Homo sapiens: one gene and its partners. The protein of the gene in region 3 interacts with the protein of the main gene of each other region in a biochemical or structural test. Each region holds a gene or a part of one and is shown on either strand. Other genes may lie near its edges. The genes, in order: TPTE2, ARHGAP31, TLN1, TPTE, ITGA1 and FMO1.

What was found.
Region 1: the proteins of TLN1 (region 3) and TPTE2 interact in a surface display test, tested with the Homo sapiens proteins (one large-scale study listed by IntAct).
Region 2: the proteins of TLN1 (region 3) and ARHGAP31 interact in a test that uses a peptide from one of them, tested with the Homo sapiens proteins (one large-scale study listed by BioGRID and IntAct).
Region 4: the proteins of TLN1 (region 3) and TPTE interact in a test that uses a peptide from one of them, tested with the Homo sapiens proteins (one study listed by BioGRID and IntAct).
Region 5: the proteins of TLN1 (region 3) and ITGA1 form a complex in vitro, tested with the Homo sapiens proteins (one study listed by BioGRID).
Region 6: the proteins of TLN1 (region 3) and FMO1 interact in a test that uses a peptide from one of them, tested with the Homo sapiens proteins (one large-scale study listed by BioGRID and IntAct).

The regions. Positions count from the first base shown.
Region 1 is NC_000013.11:19,464,033-19,467,532, reverse strand, and holds part of TPTE2 (phosphatidylinositol 3,4,5-trisphosphate 3-phosphatase TPTE2), read left to right. Parts: intron 1-188; coding exon 189-308; intron 309-624; exon of another isoform or gene 625-721; intron 722-1,968; coding exon 1,969-2,068; intron 2,069-2,214; coding exon 2,215-2,278; intron 2,279-3,012; coding exon 3,013-3,077; intron 3,078-3,500. UniProt on the Homo sapiens protein: Acts as a lipid phosphatase, removing the phosphate in the D3 position of the inositol ring from phosphatidylinositol 3,4,5-trisphosphate.
Region 2 is NC_000003.12:119,416,383-119,418,798, forward strand, and holds part of ARHGAP31 (rho GTPase-activating protein 31), read left to right. Parts: 3' UTR 1-2,416. UniProt on the Homo sapiens protein: Functions as a GTPase-activating protein (GAP) for RAC1 and CDC42. Required for cell spreading, polarized lamellipodia formation and cell migration.
Region 3 is NC_000009.12:35,701,196-35,704,695, forward strand, and holds part of TLN1 (talin-1), read right to left. Parts: coding exon 3,474-3,500; intron 3,304-3,473; coding exon 3,137-3,303; intron 2,980-3,136; coding exon 2,796-2,979; intron 2,706-2,795; coding exon 2,580-2,705; intron 2,482-2,579; coding exon 2,365-2,481; intron 1-2,364. UniProt on the Homo sapiens protein: High molecular weight cytoskeletal protein concentrated at regions of cell-matrix and cell-cell contacts. Involved in connections of major cytoskeletal structures to the plasma membrane.
Region 4 is NC_000021.9:10,524,583-10,528,082, forward strand, and holds part of TPTE (putative tyrosine-protein phosphatase TPTE), read left to right. Parts: 5' UTR 1-106; intron 107-2,772; 5' UTR 2,773-2,830; intron 2,831-3,500.
Region 5 is NC_000005.10:52,951,916-52,955,415, forward strand, and holds part of ITGA1 (integrin alpha-1 precursor), read left to right. Parts: intron 1-491; coding exon 492-536; 3' UTR 537-3,500. UniProt on the Homo sapiens protein: Integrin alpha-1/beta-1 is a receptor for laminin and collagen. It recognizes the proline-hydroxylated sequence G-F-P-G-E-R in collagen. Involved in anchorage-dependent, negative regulation of EGF-stimulated cell growth.
Region 6 is NC_000001.11:171,282,978-171,286,461, forward strand, and holds the end of FMO1 (flavin-containing monooxygenase 1), read left to right. Parts: intron 1-166; coding exon 167-239; intron 240-945; coding exon of another isoform or gene 946-946; exon of another isoform or gene 947-1,520; intron 1,521-2,224; coding exon 2,225-2,567; 3' UTR 2,568-2,984; downstream 2,985-3,484. UniProt on the Homo sapiens protein: Broad spectrum monooxygenase that catalyzes the oxygenation of a wide variety of nitrogen- and sulfur-containing compounds including xenobiotics.

The DNA of each region.
Region 1 (3,500 bases), on a different chromosome or scaffold from region 3:
TTTTATTGTTTGAAAACTTCCCATGAATGTTATGTTTTTCCCTTAGTCTACTCTAGAAAATACATTTTAAATAATTCATGATAGTAGAATTCTTAATGGGGATGAGTCAGTAGTTTGTGGTCTTTAAATATTCCTGTCTCTTCTTGCAGAGGGAAATGAACTTTTTTTTTTTTTTTTTTATATTACAGGAGACAGCAGTATTTTTCTGACTTATTTAACATTTTAGATACTGCCATTATTGTGATTCCTCTGCTGGTTGATGTCATTTACATTTTTTTTGACATTAAGTTGCTTAGGAATATTCCCAGGTATGAAACATAAGACTTACCTCTCTTAAAGTTTTTCATTACTTTTAGCATTTTCTGTGGCTTTTATTCTATATAATCTTTTCAACTTCAAATGTTCTCATCTATACCAAATACATTGCTTTAAAATGAAATGTTTGGGTAAATGCCCACATACTTTGAAACTAAAAGATTGTGATATTTAGGGACCAGTGAAGAATATACACGCTAAGTACCATTAATGGAATAAAGAAGATGGCAGTACCCAAAGAAGGACTTTTACTCTTGTACTAACTTTAACTTCTCTACATTTTGAAGTTCTCATCGAATTCCCATTTGTATCATTTTTTGGCCTTTTGGCTAAGATCAAGTATAATATTCTTATCAGTTTAATATCTGCTATATCAAAAAAACTTATATTGAAAACAATTCCCCTCTGTGCTTCAACTACAAATCCCTTACACATAATGTTCTGTCTGGATTTTTCCTACAGCCAAGAGGGAATTTATTTGAGCATATGCAAAATTTGAGTGATTTCAATCATGAGTTTCTAAAAAATAGCAAACAGAACAGAAACTAGGAGATGACACATGTAGCAACACAATAGTAGAGTTTTGCAGTATAGTTGTGGTAGAAACAAAGAAAGCTTAGGCAAAGTTAGAACTGTTAGGGATTAGGAAAACTTAACAGTGTATGAGGCCCTGGTGACTCTTTTTCTTTTTTTACTGTGACAATGAGGAAAATGAAAGAGCAAATGTATACTGGGATGTAGATGGTGGCTTCCTAAGCTTGTTCATGGGTCAAATAGCTGATTTCTTTTTGTACCCTAGCTTCCCTGGACTACAGCTCAGGCCCCAACTAAAAGCATGTTAAGTGATTGGCTTTTGGAGTTATTTGAAAATAACCTCAGCCAATGTGGTTCTCTGACTAGAAACCTCAGCATCACTTGACAGCTTGCTAGAAATATAAGAAGAAAAATACCTTAGGCCCCACCCTGGACCCACTGAATCAGTATCTCTGGGACCCAGCAATCTGCAGCTTAACAAGCTTTTCCAGGTGGCTCTTATTGACATGTGCCCAAATCAGAGAAGCACTAGTCCAGACCATCAGTTCTCTGCTTTGGTGGTTCTGATGGCAGGAGAGATACCAGCTAGCACACTTTGGAAGTATCTCAATCTGTTGCCTGCCTGATGTGCATTAGCAGCTGTAGTGAACATCTGTTACTCATGGGAATAACAAAGATGAACAAGAATAATCGATTTGTTTTGATGTGGAAAAATTGAAAATGCTAGTCTTAAATCCCAAAATTAAATTTACAAATGCTAAGAGTCTATCGTATCACTATTTCTCTAGACCAGAATTTCTCAGCCTCAGCATTACCAACATTTTGGGCCAGATCATTGTCATAAGAGGGTGGTGAGCAGTTATATTAATTGTAGGGTGTTTAGCAAAATTCCTGGCCTCTATTCACTAGATGTAAGTAACACACAGACACAAACACACATGCACACACGCAAGTTGTGAAAACCTAAATGCCTCCAGACATTGCCAAATATCCCCCAGGTAGGTAATTGGGGAGAGGAGGGAAAATTGCCTCTGGTTAACAACTGCTGCTCTAGACATAGTTTATATTGATAAAATTCTGTTTCTGAAGCAAAAATGGATCTTTTAAATTTATTGTTAGATGGACACATTTAGTTCGACTTCTACGACTTATTATTCTGATAAGAATTTTTCATCTGCTTCATCAAAAAAGACAACTTGAAAAGCTGATGAGAAGGCTGGTAAGTGGGCAAAACATGCTTATGATTCAGAAAAATATTTTGTGTTTTGGGACCCATTGGCAAGGGTTGATATCTATACTGTATAATGTTTTTTATTTTTATGTTGATGAATGTTTCACAAACTAATGATGATTTTAAACTCTCAGGTTTCAGAAAACAAAAGGCGATACACAAGGGATGGATTTGACCTAGACCTCACTTACGTTACAGGTTTGTGACACTTAATGGTTGATTTACTTGTATTACTTCACTTTTTCTTGTAATTGTATTTTTTTGCCTCATCTAAGACACATTCATTCAAAATATTCTTTATTCTTGAGAATATATGCCACTGTGATAGTGTGACATATTTGTGGTTTAGCCCTGGCAATGGAAGATCTGCATGTCTTCTCAATTCAGGACTACTCAGTTGCAGCATAGGAACTTGAATGGATTTTCAGCTGACTCCATTTGAGTTTCAATTTATTAACCTCTTGTAGTTATTTCTGAGTCCCAAGGATCCCACAGAGACCTCTTCTCATCCTAGAACCCCAGAGAATGAGGTCAGTGTTTTGTAGATCTCAGGTTTTCTGAGTCAGAGGGCTGCAAAGCACCTTGGGAGTTCCCACCGTCACTGGTGCCCAGAAATCTTGGATTTTCTCTGGTATTTAAGATAAGAAATAAATTCTAAGAACAGGGGGAACTTCAGACTGAGGCCATCATAAGTACATGGCATACAGTTAGAACTAGTGGAGACTTAAGAACTCCATGCCAGTTTAATGGTCATTGTGTTGGATAATTTAATATGTTATTTGATTATCCTGAGTATTAGCTCTTTTCTGTCAACCTCAATTTTAAAAGTTTTTTTTCTGTGAAAATGGAGTCTGATCATGTATAAATTAATTTTTTTTGTGTTATATGAAATCTATAATAATGTTTGTAATAGTGATGATTTTGACTTTCAGAACGTATTATTGCTATGTCATTTCCATCTTCTGGAAGGCAGTCTTTCTATAGAAATCCAATTGAGGTAAGGGTCTTTATCTGACAAATACTCATTTCTCAGTGAATGTAGACTGTGTAGTCATAAGTTTAATATTGACCCAGATATGGCAGTATTCTTTTAAAAATGTACTCTTTCAAGTAAAAAAATCATAATGGATTGATACCAGTTACAATTGTGCCAGTGGTTACAAACCACCCCAAAACTTACTGGCTTATAACAGCAACTATTTATTTGGCTCATGATACTGTGGTTTGTGAATTTGGTATGGGCTTAACTGTCCAATTCAGGTGCTTGCAGAAAGGATTTCCTGTCTCAACTAAGCTCATTCATGTATCTGTGGGCAGCTACTGGGTCATCTGAGGACTGGCTAGTCTAAAATGGCTTGGCTACCCTCAACTGACAGAGCCACTGCATGCTACGTGCACCCCCCCGAGGCCCAAGGCCCAT
Region 2 (2,416 bases), on a different chromosome or scaffold from region 3:
TTCTCTTTCTTCAGCCTTTTGACCACTTATTAATTAGTCCATTTGCTAGAAGAGTGGTCAAGGGAAAAACGAGAGATGAAATTTAGTTAAGTCTATGTGAGCAAGTGAGAGAAGGTTAGGTAAGGGGAGAGGATGGAATGCTTGCCTCCAATGAACTTTGGAGCTTGTATGTGAGTCAGATTGCTCCCCTATTGCTATTATCTATTACTCTTGAGAGCTGGCTGTCCTTTGAAAGAAAGAAGTAATGTTCTTTGAAAGAAAGAAAAATCTCTTGCTGTGTCAAACCTCAAAATGTTGCTATTGGGGTTAGAAGGCCTCCTCTTTATGCTTTTTAATGCTCTTTCAAACGTGTTCTTTTAGACCAGTTTTCTAATAAGCTTTGTAAAATGTACTATCCAAATTAGAAGCGGATTTGGAAATGCAAACTAACGTGCACTTAGATATCCAAGTGGGTGAGCTTAGCCACTCTTACCCATGCTCTTTCCCTGGAATCCCTGGAGACCTGTCCAAGATGATTTCCATATACCAGCATAGAAAATCAGAATCAAGAGCAAACTCTGAGACTGGCACAATCCAAGAAGATTTCCTGGCTCTGGCTTTTAGTAATTTGGGACTCCAACTGCCACTGTACTGGACTGTAATTTATAAATCCAGTAGCTACGCAGGGTGGAGGCTGGGCTGAGGATTACCATAATGAAATGTACTAAATCTTCATTTAGGTATGCAATTGTGAAGTGAAGGCATCTGCTTTCTTTACAGTATCAGAGTCCAAGAACAGGATGTCACCATAGATAAAAGCCTCATACAAAGGCAGAACTACACTCCAAATTTAATGTGTTTAAATTGGTGGGGCACCAGCAGAAAATATTCTAGCTCAGCTTTACTCTTCTTCCACACTAGGCTGGGCCCAGCAATACAGGAGAGGATGAAGGGAGGAGCTCCAGGAGGCGAGGGAAGAGCCCTAGCAGGGCGGCCATCACAACCACTCACTGAGAGTTGCCCTTCTTAAAAATGTATTTTATTTTAGCCAGTGGGTCCCTTCCTTTCTCCTTTCCTCTCTACTGCTCAAGAACAGATTTGAGGCCAGGTGCGGTGCCTCACATCTGTAATCCCAACACTTTGGGAGGCTGAGATGGGTGGATTGCTTGAGCCCAGGAGTTCAAGACCAGCCTGGGCAACACAGCGAGACCCCATCTCTTAAAAAATAACAGACTTGAGGAACCCCTCTCCCTTCCATAATTCCCCTCATCCACCGCCCACTCCAGGCACTCACTCAAACTTGCTCTTCAACTCTGTATACAAGCAGAAGCAATAAACCAATCTGATTTTCTTTTCAATTATTTATAACTTTCAATGGTTCTTTCCTTTCCAGCTGGCGAGAGAAAGGAGAACTAATATACCTGCTGGCAGATTTTTGGTGCTGCCCAAAAAAGGACTTCACAGGGCATCTCTTCTCAGGTTCAAGCCTGGCTGAATTCTGCCCAGAAGCTCAGTCATTGCAGAAATTTCTCTAAGGGCTGATAGTACCTCTGGGTAGGCGTCACAACCAAGGCTGGTTCTGGGCTTAGTGGGGGCTGAGATGAAGTTACCTCCTCCAATGAGAAATTGGGAGCTGATGCCCTGCAACAGATATATATTCCTCTCTCTCTCTGTCTCTCTATCTCTCTCCTCCCTCTCCCTCCCTCCCTCCCCGCCAATAAGCCTTACAAACAGTTTTGAAATCTTGTTCTGTACCTTTTAAGCCAGTGTCTGTGGCGAGGGTGACTGGCAAGTCAGCTGATGAGTTCTGCCTTCTGAGAGCACTGAGTGAGCAAGGCCTTTCATCAGTGTTTTGGCCTTCTCATTGGGTGAGGAAGACATTGAACCAACAGCCAACGAGATATGAACCTGTAAGAAAAAAGTCCTAGAATATAGTATTTTTCCCCAGGCCAGCAAAGTGAAGAAATACAGTGGTGACAGATGAGAAAGGCCATGTTCAAGAGATCTGAAAAGTACATTCCTGCCTTATCAGAAAATGTGTCAGACAGGTTTTATGTCAGCCTCAGTGCTCCTGCGGTGTCGACGCTCTGATAAGGACCATGTTCCAGTTAGAATGCGAGGGAGGGAAAGAGCTGCACTTTGCTTCACCATCAGAACTCTGAGCCAAATAATGAATATGTAAACTATTTTATGATTATTTTAAATGTTTGTTTGGTAACATTTATAAGATCTATTTTTATTTGGGGATAGACTGAGAAGCCACCATTTACATATTAACAAGTGACTTCAGTTCTAAGGGTTGAGATGCCTGTGTGGATTTATAAAATGGTTGCAAGATCTTTTAGACTCTGACATTTATAGCATCACCTTCAGGAACACAGTTCTGGGGATGTCATCATGAGACACACTGACAGCTGTGGAGATAGTCCCTACTCTC
Region 3 (3,500 bases):
GGGATGGGGCACAGAAAGGAAGAGAGTAGGATGAGACTGGAGAAGCAAGCAGAGCCATCACTAATGGGTTTTAAGTAGTGAAGTGACATAATCTAATATATATATATTTCTTGCTCTGTCACCCAGGCTGGAGTGCACTGGAGTGATCATAGTTCACTGCAGACTTGAACCCCTGGGCTCAAGGGATCCTCCTGCCTTCAGACTCATGAGTAACTGGGACAGGCATGGGCCACCTTGCCCAGCTAATCTTTAAATTTTTTGTAGAGACAGGATCTTGCTATGTTGTCCAGACTAGTCTTGAACTCACTCAAGTGATCCTCCCATCTCAGTCTTCCAAAGCGCTGGGATTTTACAGGCATCAGCCAGCATGTCCAGACTCTAATTTATATTTTAAAAACATAATTTTAGCTACTGTGTACAAAGGAGGATTGGAGGGGGCAAGTGTTGAAGCATGGTGACTGGATAGAGACTACTGCATAAATCCAGTTAAGGACTGATGATGGTTTGGACAGTGTGGTAGTGGTAGGAGATAAAAAGAAAAAATGAGCTGTATTTGGAAGGGGCACTAGCAAAACTTAGATGTGGGGAATGAGAGAAAGAGAGAAGTCTAATATATTGAAGCTAGGTTTCTGGCTTTAGGAACTGAGTTACTAAGAGGTGCCATTTACTGAGATGGGGGAAGACCAGGAAAGGACCAGGTATGGGAGGCAGAAAGTCAAGAGTTCCAACTTGGACATCTTCAAGTAAAAGTGAAAACAGAACCTTAGAAAGATGCATTTAGAAATTAGAAAGATGAGTAGGGAGAGAGGAGAGTGGCAGGGACCAGAAGCAGGGAGACCAGGGAGAAAACTGGTGCCACAGCCAAATTGCGGGAGAGTATGGAAGTGTGAACCAGAGTGCGGACAGGGAACCAGGGAGGAGGAATGAAAGGACGTGGCAACAGCCTGGATATGGTGGCTAAGATGGTGAAGTCAAAGATGACTGAGGTGGAATCTTCATGACTGCAAGGGTGTTCCCACCATTAGGAGGACCATGTCATGGTTCGGAGGCACTGCATCTAGGTGGTGATGTCAAACAGGCAGTTGAAAATAACTCAACTCAGAACTGGATGTCTGCTTCTTACAGAATAATAATGAAAGTGGTTAAACTTGCCAAAGAAGAGAAGAGAGAAGGAAGACTATTTGTACAACCCTGGGAAGGCCTCCACATTTACTAAGTTAAAGGTGATTCAATGACGTTCGAGAAACAAGAGAAAAGCCAGTATCTAGGCCAAGGGAAGAAAGAATTTCATTTTTTTTCTTTTTTGTTTTTTTTTGAGATGGAGTCTCACTCTGTTGCCCAGGCTGGAGTGCAGTGGCGCCATCTTGGCTCACTGCAACCTCTGCCTCCCGGGTTCCAGCGATTCTCCTGCCTTAGCCTCCCAAGCAGCTGGGACTACAGGCGCGTGCCACCACGCCCAGCTAATTTTTGTATTTTTAGTAGAGACGGGGTTTCACCATATTGGCCAGGCTGGTCTCGAACTCCCGACCTTGTGATCCACCCGCCTCAGCCTCCCAAAGTGCTGGGATTACACCCGCTGGCCTCCCAAAGTGCTGGCGTGAGCCACCATGCCCAGCAGAAGAAAGAATTTCAAAGAGAGGCTTGTTAACACAGTCAGATGCTTTCGAAATATTCAAAGAGGATGAAGGCCAAGAAGTGGCCACTGAATGTAGCAACTAAGAAGAGGCCACTAGTGACTGGAGAAAGTGGGAGGGTGGTGAAAAAATACAGTTGTCACATGCTAAGGAATAAACAAGTGGGTAGGGGACAGACATGAATGTAGCTCACTGGCACAGTGGCTCATGAGTGTAATCCCAGCACTTTGGGAGGCCAAGGCGGGTGGATCACTTGAGGCCAGGAGTTCGAGACCAGCCTGGTCAACATGGTGAAACCCCATCTCTACTAAAAATACAAAAACTAGCCAGCATGGTATGCACCTGTATTCCCAGTGACTCAGGAGGCTGAGGCATGAGAAGCACTTGAACCTGGGAGGTGGAGGTTGTAGTGAGCTGAGATCACGCCACTGCACTCCAGAAGGAGGGTGTGGGAGAGCTGGGGTAGGGGAAGTCACATGGTGACTGAGGAAGATGCCATGTGAAATGGAAAGGTCACCCACACCTGGGAGAAATGACAAGAGGAGAGGGCTGAGAAGGCTGGAGGAGGATGGCTACAGAGCAAGACCCTTCTCAAAAAAAAAGTCTGGCGATAGATGAGAGAGAAGACTGTGTGTGACTCCAGCTGTGAGTATATGTGTGGCACAGGTTCACAGGCTTTCAGGATCCCTCTCTCTGACCCTAGTCACTGATGCCCCAGACTCTCACTCACCGCCAGCTCCTGCCGTATGTGTTCTGTGGTTGCCTCCAGGGCCCGAGTGCCTTTGGTGGCCTCATCTTCCACGGCTTTTACTGTCTTAAGCAATGATGTCACATTGGTCACCATCACCTGGAGGTATCAGAGGAGTGAAGAGGAATGATTTTAAGGAACAGGAGGAAGTATGTTAATCCAGTGCCCCTCCTGATGTTGCTCTCATTCTCTCCAACCTTGGCAGAGTTCTTTAGCTGCCACACAGCAGGGTCATCTCCAACTTTGCCAGCTGCAGCCTTCGTTGCACTGATGAGGTCTCCCAGGGCTTTGGCTACATCTTTCACTGCGTTGATTAGTACCACCTGTGTGGGAAAGCGTTGGCTCTGGTCTATGGGAGGAAGAAGCGGGACAGGAAGTGATTCCAGCCGGAATTAGGGGCATCAGGTCACTACCTGGGTCTCAGGGTCCTCAGCTCCCAGGCTGGCTGCACCCAGCTTGACCACATCAGCGAGGCGGGTGATGGTCGCCACGGAGGACTGGGCAGCCTGCGCCAACTTCTCCTGGCTCCCAGCTGCGTTTTGCACCAGGACCTTGGTGTCCTCCACCAGCACCTTCGCAGTCTTCAGGATGCCCTCCCTGAGGGAGGGCCCAGCTTAGTCAGATCTCCCCTACCCGCTCCAGCCCGTCCAAGGTGCCTGGTCCAGGTCTTCCCCATTCCAGCGAATGCTATCCTGCCTCTTCCAGCCCCGTGCCCCGACCTGTCTGCCTCCCTTAGGCCCAGTTCCTGTCTTACCGGTGGTCAGCGAAAGTTTCAGTACCCTCACGATTGAGCGTGCCAGCAGTGGCGAACATGATGGTGGTGTCGAGGTCAGCAATGATACCAGACACAGCGCTGGCTGCTGTGATGCAGGCCTGGGTGCCACGATTCCCAGCCTGGAGCGCAGCCAGGACGTGGGAGACCTGGGTAGGGAATGTCACATGGTGACTGTGGAAGGTGCCATGTGAAATGGAAAGGTTGCCCATGCCTGGGAGAAGTGACAACAGGAGAGGGCTGAGAGGGCTGGAGGAGGATGGCAAAGGCTACAGAGTTTGGAGGCAGTCCCACCATCTGCAGGGATGAGCACCGTCACCTTCTCAGAGACTCTCCGGGCACACTC
Region 4 (3,500 bases), on a different chromosome or scaffold from region 3:
ATGTTGGACCGACGACACAAGACCTCAGACTTGTGTTATTCTAGCAGCTGAACACACCCCAGGCTCTTCTGCCCGGCAGTGGCTCTGGAAGCAGTCTGGTGTATAGGTAAGCATGTCCAGGGCTTATAGGGAGAAACTCCCAGAAATCCAGCTCTGCCTTGGGTTGCCCTGGTTCACGTCCAAAGATGTGCTTGGGCCACATCTCTGGAGCACAAGGTGGTAGACTGAGAGCTTTGATATTTCTACTCCTACTGCAGATGAGCTGGTATAACTCTGAAGGTATGGAATTTGCTGTTGTCTGTGACCCAGCAAATAAAAATAGAAAAATAATTCGATAGAAAAATAATAGAAATAGAAAAAATTTAAAAAACAAACCAAGCCTCATTCTATGACATTTTAGGCAGTGTGATAATATGCATATACTGGTCACTTTAATCTTTCCTACAGGGGCAGCTGGTTGCCCTAATGTTGGATGCTCTGTTCAAGGATGGTAAGCTAGTGTTCAGCTCAGGAAGCCACTCCACAGAGATGGCCACCAAAAGGGCTTCAGTGGTCCCATCTCAATTAACACCTGAAACATTGTTAATTATTACAGTGAAGGTCACAAATGGGTTTTTATTAGTGAAATTGGCGGCTTACAAAGCAGCATGATGGATGTTACAATTATATGACATTTTAAGATCTGTGAATCAACTAACGTGTTTTGGAGACAGCCCACCCTTGCATAAACAGGATAAAGGTGTATGAGGGTGGCCTGTAGTGTATATTTAGAGACGACACCCAAGGCTTGATCCTCATATGGTCCTATCTCCAGGAACGTTTAGGAAGATTTTGGCCTCTGAAACATTAGGAATCTGTTGAGAATGAAGCTTTCATGCTTGGAGTACCTAAAGTGCGGAAAGCTTACAGAAGCTTATATACTGTGTCTGCTTGCTACTGAATGTTTTGTTAAATGAATATCTGTATGTGTGGCAGATTTGGTCGGAGACCTACTTTTCATTATAACCTGGTAGCATGATTATAAAGGTGTAGCTAACCTTCAGCTAACTCAAACTTCTGTGGTTGCTCCTATCTACCAAAAAGCATTTAAGAATTCTGCATGACCACTTCAGTTTAGGACGGTTTGCAATTCTCACCTTCCTTAGGGGGCAATTTAGCTAGTTACTTATTCATGTCCCATGAGGGAAGTCATTCTGTGCCCCAAAGCAGCTTATCAAAGTATTATTTCAGACTTCATGCAGTACTCTCCCTGGAGTTCAGGTAACATCTATGGATGTCTCGTGCCCTTTTTGGAGATTAGTTTCCCAAGGAACTTGCTTAGCAATCCTGGCTTGTCACCTGAATCTGGAGTAATTTGAGTGTCTTCCAGTTCTCTTCCTCAGTAGAGGATGTCTGAAAAATCTAGTAATCATTTAATAAGGCTGCTTATGTCAGAAACTCAAATTCTTACCTTTTTGGTGTTTTGAACATTTTCCCCTGTTATGATTTATTAGTGTATTCTGCATAGACAATCCAATTATTCATCCTGCTGAAAAGTAGCGGATGCCTATAGATGCCTTTCTTTTTGTAAAAGGTTATTGTTTTTCCTGAGACCTGGATGAATTTCCAGGAGCCATTCAAGGACATGAGAACACCCACTTAGAACTTGAAAGGTTCCCCTCATGGCCCTCAGACCAGGCTAACGAGATGCGATAATTTGAACTCTGGCACTCCTTTCCTCACAGGCTGAAAGACTAGCACAATATTAATGTCTATCTGTGCTTAAAGGTTGGAGCTATTGATCAGAGTCCAAAATTAGTTTGTGTAGGGGAACTTTTCTTAAAGACATAAAAAGATACCATTTAATATATTGTTTCCAAAATGTGTTTCTCACACATTTCCACTGTGAGAAAGAGGTTCTGTGGTCAAATAGGTTAAGAAACCTCAGCACACTCTTAGAGAATCCCAGTTGTTATCAGCAGCAAAAAAATGTATGTGATCAGTTTCTTAAACTTATTTAAACGTTTGAAAAGTTAGAAAATTGTGGTGAAGAGCATTAATTCTTGAGTCTTGGGAGTGTATTACCTTGATGAGAATGTTTGTGTATTTGAAACTAAAAATGTGTATCCGTTTATATTGCCACATACTGATTTTTATGGCATAATATATGGTGTAGAGAGCAGGTTGTCTAAAAACCAATATTGGCAAAATGCTGAATATTCAGCATGGTTTTATGAAGTTGACAGATGTGGAGTGTATTTTGCATGTGTCTTAACTTACAGATGAGGAAATGAAGTAGCAGAGAGATTAAATTAGCCAAGCCAGGGGTTTCGGTGCTAGGAAGTCTTGATATTGTAAAACATAGCCATATAACTTTAAAAAAATGAATCCAGACAAAGAGAAAACAAAATCATTGTAAACACATAATCCACTTTAAGTTCACAAAATGTTTTAAACATAATTAAGGCTTGACTTATCTACTTGTTTATTTCCTACCAAGGATGACCGGGAACTAGCCATTGATATAGAAACATTCATTATTCTTACATTTTCTTTCTTTTTTCTGTGTCCCCTCTCTCTCTCTCTCTCTCTCTCTCACACACACACACAGACACACACACACACACAGTCTCAGAAGTACTAGTGCTGTATCCTGAAATTGTTTCTTTAGTTCTTGTCAAAATTCCTCCGATTTTATTTTTTGTGTCCTGAAATACTGTTGAGATTAACATCCTCATTGCCTTCCAAAATATCTGACTTTATTTTTTGTATGTGCTTTTTACTCTTTGGTAGAGTTATGGATTCACTACCAGATTCTACTGTATGCTCTTGACAACTATGACCACAATGGGTGAGTTGACTGATCTAAGTGGTGAAAAATACTGGGAGCATCAATGGCAATAACAGCTTTCTATCAGAGACTTTAAGCATCTTTGGTAACATTGTTTTTGAACCAGAGTGGAAAAAATAAGATCAGGTCAGAAGAAGGATGCTTGGTACTCAAAGATTGTTTGTGACTCTAAGTAATTAGCAGCCAAAACCTTAGGAAACTATCAGAATGCCTGTGTATGAGACTCTCTTCAAGAGTGGTCCAAGAGAGGAGAGAATCCTACTTGGAGAAAGAAGGTGGTAGCATTGGACAGGCAGCAGAGGAGCCCTCAGCAGCAAGAAAGGAGCTAAGAGACCCTGTATCTGTCCCTCACCCTTCAGAGCTGGTGCCCCAAACTCAAAGCCATCATCACATTGGATGGAGCCCCTGCCTCAGGTTTAGTCACTTGATCCTATTTGAGGAGAAGCAAAGATATCTGTGACTCATGAAGAGCATGAAGGTGGTGGAGGGACTTGATAATTAGGAAATCAAAATGGGCAAGAATAATGTGTGCCTACAAATGGGACATGAATTTGAAGGAAATTTAAGTTAAATTTGCTGCCACACATGATGATCAGGTTCAGTAATAATTGTATTTAAATCTTGATTCATTAAACTTTTTTGAGAGTCCTAAACAATTTTTATTACCAAC
Region 5 (3,500 bases), on a different chromosome or scaffold from region 3:
GCGCGATGGCTCACGCCTGTAATCCCAGCACTTTGGGAGGCCGAGGCAGGCAGATCATGAGGTCAAGAGATAGAGACCATCCTGGCCAACATGGTGAAACCCCGTCTCTACTGAAAATACAAAAATTAGCTGGGCATGGTGGTGCATGCCTGTAGTCCCAGCTACCCAGGAGGCTGAGGCAGGAGAATCACTTGAACCCGGGTGGCGGAGGTTGCAGTGAGCGGAGATCACGCCACTGCACTCCAGCCTGGTGACAGAGTGAGACTGTCTCAAAAAAAAAAAAGAAAAGAAAAAAAAAGAAACAGCAATTTAATAAATGTCATTTTTTGACATTGAATATTAATAGGTCAATGAGAAAATATTTCTTAATTATATTAGTTGTGTGCCCAGCATTGCCAATATACTATTAAATTTAATTCTATCCAAAGGATTAATATTTGCTACCTAAATTAAAATAGTTAATTGTGTTATGTTTTGTGTTTTCTCAACAGATTGGATTCTTCAAAAGACCACTGAAAAAGAAAATGGAGAAATGAAATATTTTATGAAAGAAAATAATAACAATTATTCAATAATCTATCCTCAGGTTTGCCTCAAATATGTGACAAGAAATGTATAATTCATGACATAGTCATGTAACTATGTAATCCATCAGGGATTCATTACTTGGAAAATGACAGGTCATGCATTATCCAAAAACAATACCAAAAAGACATATTTTATAAAATGACAAAAAATATTTTACATAATTACTCATTTTTGTTGAGTAAGCAAAATTACAAAGTGTTTTTAAAAAAACCTGTACAAATATGTTTATGTATTAAATCACCATCCAAAATATTTAAGGAATATATAAAAAGATTTTTATGATCATAGAAACATCTATTTTCAAAACAATATAAATTAAGCTTTTCCCCTTGATTCCTGTTGGATATCCATGTTCAGCATGACAGTCAGCACTCGTAAATGCCAAGAAAAGAATTACCTGAAAAAGATCATTTCTCCCTATTCAAATGAGAATATTTTCCCTTGGTAGAATCCATATACAATATGGATTGAAAATTAAGTCACCAAGAATACATTTAGCATCTTTGTGTTGGGTTCTATACCTAAAAATTTTCCCTCCCTGCCCAAGGTGATTGGAAAGTACTGCAATTGAGCTAAAATTTTATCTAGGATGGAAAATCAGGATAGACTCGTTTAAAAACAAGTATATTAAATGGGTTAAATTAAGCTTTTACAGAACATGCTTAATTTTGATATTGAGCTCTAAATGCAAAACTCTTTTATACTGAAAAAACACTTAAAGTAGTTTTGTGTGGCATCACAGTGATTTGTCATGAAAAGCCATATATGGGGGACATGCTAAAATGGCTTCTGAATGAAATACGACAGCAGAGAAAGATGCCACTGAAATGCTGAAATTATCTTTGCTGAGCAGCTTTTGAATGCTAAGGGTTCCAGTATGTGACCCAAAGAAAGAGTTGTCTCAACTCCTTGGTACAGGGTTCATTCAAACCCCCAAGCTGTGAGAGTGTGTTTATTTTTAATTTTTTAAAAGGTATTTAATTTCCAACCACACTTCTTATTTTTTTGAAAAGACAATTTTCCATTTCAGTATTACATTTTACCAAGAAGTCACTGCTTTTTAGGTGTGTTGCATCAATATTTAAATAAAATCCCAGAAATGTATTTTAAAGAATTTCAGGTTTGAAAACTCAAACCAACAGGAAGATATCACACCTTTGTATGTGCTTCTTTGTTCTTGAAGTAGTCATTATGGTTCATTGGAATCTACTGTAGCATAAGCTCCTAGGTTGCTCCATTTCTTAGGAAAATAGCAATGAATGAATGTATAGTAGCTGCATGTGTGAACTACTGCTGTAAAGTTTGCTGACATTTCTGCAACAACATTTCTCCATCTGATTTACCAGAACCTGTAACAAGACCAGAACATGTATTCATCCAGAAACTCCTGGGCTCTGCTTTGTTCAAAGAGGAGCAAATCCACATAGAAATTAAATGTTATAAATTTATTTTTTTAAACTAATTTCCAAAGAATTTAGCTGAAGACTCAGAGTCAGCCTACCTCTTGACTCTCCACATCCGCATCTAAGATCCTGAAGGCCAAAGGAATGCGCCTGTGGGATGCCAAAGCCATCAGTAGCTGGAAGAAAGAATACCTCTTTCTAGAGGTTTGGTGTCCTCTTGCTGGCCTGTCATTATTTGGAAATACGCGCTTTTGGAATTTCCTTCATTTTCGCTATTTCCAGGTTCAGAAATCATACCTACCACTTGTTCTTTCTTTGCCCAGTAAAACTCAGGGTTTCTCTTATTCAGAGTTACCATGTTGCACACCCCCAGTGCTCAGCCTGCCCAGAAGCCCTTCTCTGATCTCAGCAAGATCTTAGTAGTAAAGCTAACGGATCCATTGAAATTCATACTCAGCATCTGTGACTACTAGACAAAGCCCATTTACTGAACCATAAGTGTGCACTTTTAAACTAAATTGTTAACTGAAAGGGAAAAAATAGAAATGAGGGCATTTTGAAGTTTTTAGAAAAGAGAGGAAGAGCTGTTGGCCAGATCAAAGAGATACTTATAAGCCCGGCACAATTTTTAACATAAGTCATTCCTGGCTATTAAGTAAAATATTTCATGAACCAGAAGTCCTGTTTCTCTAATATTATAATTTGTTGAGGTTTGTGTGTGTGTGTGTGTGCATGTGCAGACACATGTACACATATAAATTGAATACAAAAATAGCTCTATAACACCAAAAAACAGAGTTTACAGAAAATAAACACAAAAGCTATATCTGCAAGACAAGTTTGATTCATCTAGTTTCATATAGTTTCATATAGTTTCATTTTTATTAATATTTAGGTTTAACTTATAGTTCTGCAATTATTTAAAAAACAAGTACAGAGCGTTTGATTAAAAAAAGTCAACAAATGTTTCAAAACAGCTTTGTACAAATGTTATAAAACATATTTAATGATTAAGAAATGTACTAGACTCTATCATTTACTTTTAAAACATTTAATTAGAAAAACAGGTGATATTTAAGACTATTTATAAACTTATTGGCCAAATTGCCAAAAAGTTTCTTTTTCTCTAACTTTGGTATTCTAAATAATTGATTATTGCTCCCATTGTAAACTGAACCATGTATGCACTCTCTTTTCTGACCAAACTACAATGGTATATTGGTAAATTATTTAACAACACACTGTCCAGGAGGGAAAAAAAAAACAGTCTCTGATTTGTATCATTTGCCAATTTCCATGGTCCAAATATTCTCTCTCCATTTTCAAACTACCAAAGTGACCCTAATCAGCTTACAAAATTCCTGGAAATGTATCTGCCACCTCTTACCAACCAGTGTGAGCTGACTTCAGCACACCACTGAGACAGATTACACGATAGACAGATAGATAGATAGATAGATAGATAGATAGATAGATAGATAGATAGATATTGATAGAGAACATGTTGTG
Region 6 (3,484 bases), on a different chromosome or scaffold from region 3:
GAGCATACAACCAGTCAGCTCAGGCTGCTAACATTTTTGCCAGAAGGATCAATGAGTAGCTGGTACTAGACGTGAAAGGAGAGCCATAGTAAAGCATCTTTATCCATAAGTCAACAGCTAGACCTAAACTTAAGTTGCATTTGAGGTTTTTATTTTAATCCTACAGGTGTAAATAAGTTACCACCACCAAGTGTCATGATAGAGGAAATTAATGCAAGGAAAGAAAACAAGCCCAGTTGGTAAGTTAACTACTTAATGCACCCTTTTTAAATTATAACTGAAATTGGTAAAAAAAAAAAAAAAAAAAAAAAAAAAAAAAAGGAAATGAAAAAGAAAAAAAAACAATAGCAGAGAGATGAAAGTTACATTGGAGAAAAAAAGAAGCATCTGAGACTTACAAGAAAAATACTAGGAGAGCCTGTTTAAGAAGAGAGAAGGGAAAGGGGAATTTAGAATTTTTAATGTCCCCAAAGTCATCACTTCAGCCCATGGTTTTCTAGTATCACATAGAGTTTGGATTCCAAATCAAGTACTACATAATTAACCCTAATCTACCAGGTACATTATTCCATATCTTATCCATAATCAACAGGCAAGCAGTTGTACCTATTTACTCTGACACTAGAAGTGTCTGCTCATTCATTCACTGAACAAGTCTCTATCAGCTCTATTGTTTTTATTCGGAGTGTGGCTTTTGCTCTTCATTTATAATTGGCTGGAAAAAAGGAAGAAGAAAAACAAAATTTTGTAGCATGTGAAAAAATCATATGAAATGGAAACCATACTGGCCATAAATAAAATTTTATTAGAACACAGCCATGGTTATTCATTTACATATTGTCAATGGCTGTTTTTGTGTTACAGTACCAAAGTTGTTTAGCAGTTGAGATAGAAACTGTAATGTGGCTCTCAAAGCCTGAACATTTACTGTCTGGCCTTTTTCAGAATAAAGTTTATTGAGCACTTCTCTATGGGAAAGGTTTTCACTTATGCTGTGCTCTGTGGCTACCACTCAAGGCTAGAGACAATGGAAGACTGATGGCCAGCAAAGTAAAGAGTCTTGGCCCTCCCCTCTCACTCTCAATCCAACCAAAACATTTCTGATTGTTTTGTGGTTTGATAAAACCACTTTGTTTTATCTGTTCATCTGTTTCTGCGTTTGATATACATTTTCACTTGAAATAAAGGTTCTGTGGCAAAAAAAAAAAAACAAAAAACAGCAAGTTTTAAAATCATTGCATCTAAGGAACTTATTATCACTCTCTTGTTCATATATATTCCCAAACTTCAAGGGTTGATCTATCCTTGTCAAGGTACCAAATTCCAAAACAATAATAGCATTTTAGATGTCTCTTCTTTATCCTCAACCTGGGATATGATTTGATCTTCATTATGGAACTCCAGTGTAATAGATAACTAATTAGAACTGCTATAAAATGAAAATCTTCTTGTCACGCATGTCAGCAAACAATTTTAGGGGCCAGGTGCAGTGGATCATGCCTGTAATCCCAGCACTTTGGGAGGCTAAGGCAAGAGGATCATTTGAGCTCAGGACTTTGAGACCAGCCTGGATGACATAGCAAGCCCCCATCCCTACAAAAAAAATAAAAGTTATTTAGGCATGGTGGCTCATGCTTGTAGTCCCACCTATTCCTAAGCCAGGAGGATCGCTTGAGCCAAGGAGTTCAAGGTTGCAGTGAGCTATGATCATGCCACTGCACTCCAGCCTAGGTGACAGAGCAAGACCTTGTAAAAAAAAAAAAAAAGAAAAAAGAAAAAAAGAAAAGGAAAAGAAAAATTAATTAATTAATTAAAGCCTAATACCAGCATTTCAGGGAATTTTACCCTATAGATTTTTGTGGCTTTTCACATTATATAAATCATTGGATTTGTTATTACTGAATAATGGAATTTTATAAAGATTTAGAAATTTTAAAATATATTTTCCTCTAGAAATTGCTAATTATTTCACAAAAGAACTAAGATGCATTATGAGCACTCAGAGCACCCATTAAAAGCCATATGTATAAAGTATCTTTTGAAGGGACTCATCTTGATTTAAGAAACAGAAGGAGACCGTTAGATAGGTAGGGAAATAAAGGGGAAAATGCAGAAACCATCCCAAATTCTGCAGCAGTATTTGTTTGCTTTGGGCACTTGTACTTGTTCTAAGATTATCAGTTTTTTTGTCTTCACCTTTTCCCCCAATCTTCCTTTTATAAAGGTTTGGCTTGTGCTACTGCAAGGCTTTACAATCAGATTATATCACATACATAGATGAACTCCTGACCTATATCAATGCAAAACCCAACCTGTTCTCTATGCTCCTAACGGATCCACATCTGGCTCTGACCGTCTTCTTTGGCCCATGCTCACCATACCAGTTCCGCTTGACTGGCCCAGGAAAATGGGAAGGAGCCAGAAATGCCATCATGACCCAGTGGGACCGAACATTCAAGGTCATCAAAGCTCGAGTTGTACAAGAGTCTCCATCTCCCTTTGAAAGTTTTCTTAAAGTCTTTAGCTTTCTGGCTTTGCTTGTGGCTATTTTTCTGATTTTCCTATAAGTAAAAGATCTCCTAAATGGAAGATGCACAGAGTAGATTTACAATGCTCCAATTCCTCTCTTACAGCAATATTGCCTTCACAGTTATAAACTGTATTCAAATAGTAAAGGCCACCCTCTCGCTTCCCTGGCTGGCCCCAGGGCTACCACTGGTATTCCTGAGCCTCTCCCAGCTCCACTTCTAATGCTAGAGAATGATAACTAAGACTTCTGTGCATTTGAAGGTTGTTGGAAAGTTACAGGTTCATTTTAGAAAGAAAGCTGTTCTTGACAGCACTCTGAGCCATCATACCTCTTTCCCATATAAACTATTTTCACAGATCTCAACTAAAACCCCTTACTTCACAAATGATTGTGTTGTGCTGAAATGGTGCTCTTATAGTACTGGCTTATTAAAAGTAAAAAATAAACCTAAAAATTGATTGTTTTAAGTGATCTTTTGTTCTCTTATTAAAGATTGGGAAAAGGGAGAAAAAGATGAGGATTCTATGAATAAAGCTCATAAAAGGATAGGGGGTTCAATGAGTTACTTTGAGAGTTTCCCAAAGGACTGTACCTGCCTGGGACTGTTCATTCCTCCAGAACACTCTTTATAACAAAGCTGTTACTCCAGCTGGCCTCCCAAAGACCCAAATCAGATTCCACAGAAAACCACCACCTCCACGGGCTCTTAGAACCAGCCTCCAGCAGCCAAAGGAAAAAGCCTACCTGCTTAGATCCTCCTTCACAACCCTGCTGTAAGAGGCAAATGGAGCTGCCTCCTTTTAAAGAGTCAATGAGAACCAACCAAATTCAATTGGAATTCATTAGATAAAGAGCACAGCCAAGAAGCTTTTAATGGAGAGAAAGCAGGGAGAGGAAAAAAGGGAAAGAAAAAGAGGAACAAAAGCAAACATCGTGTCAAAAGCAGCAGTTTCA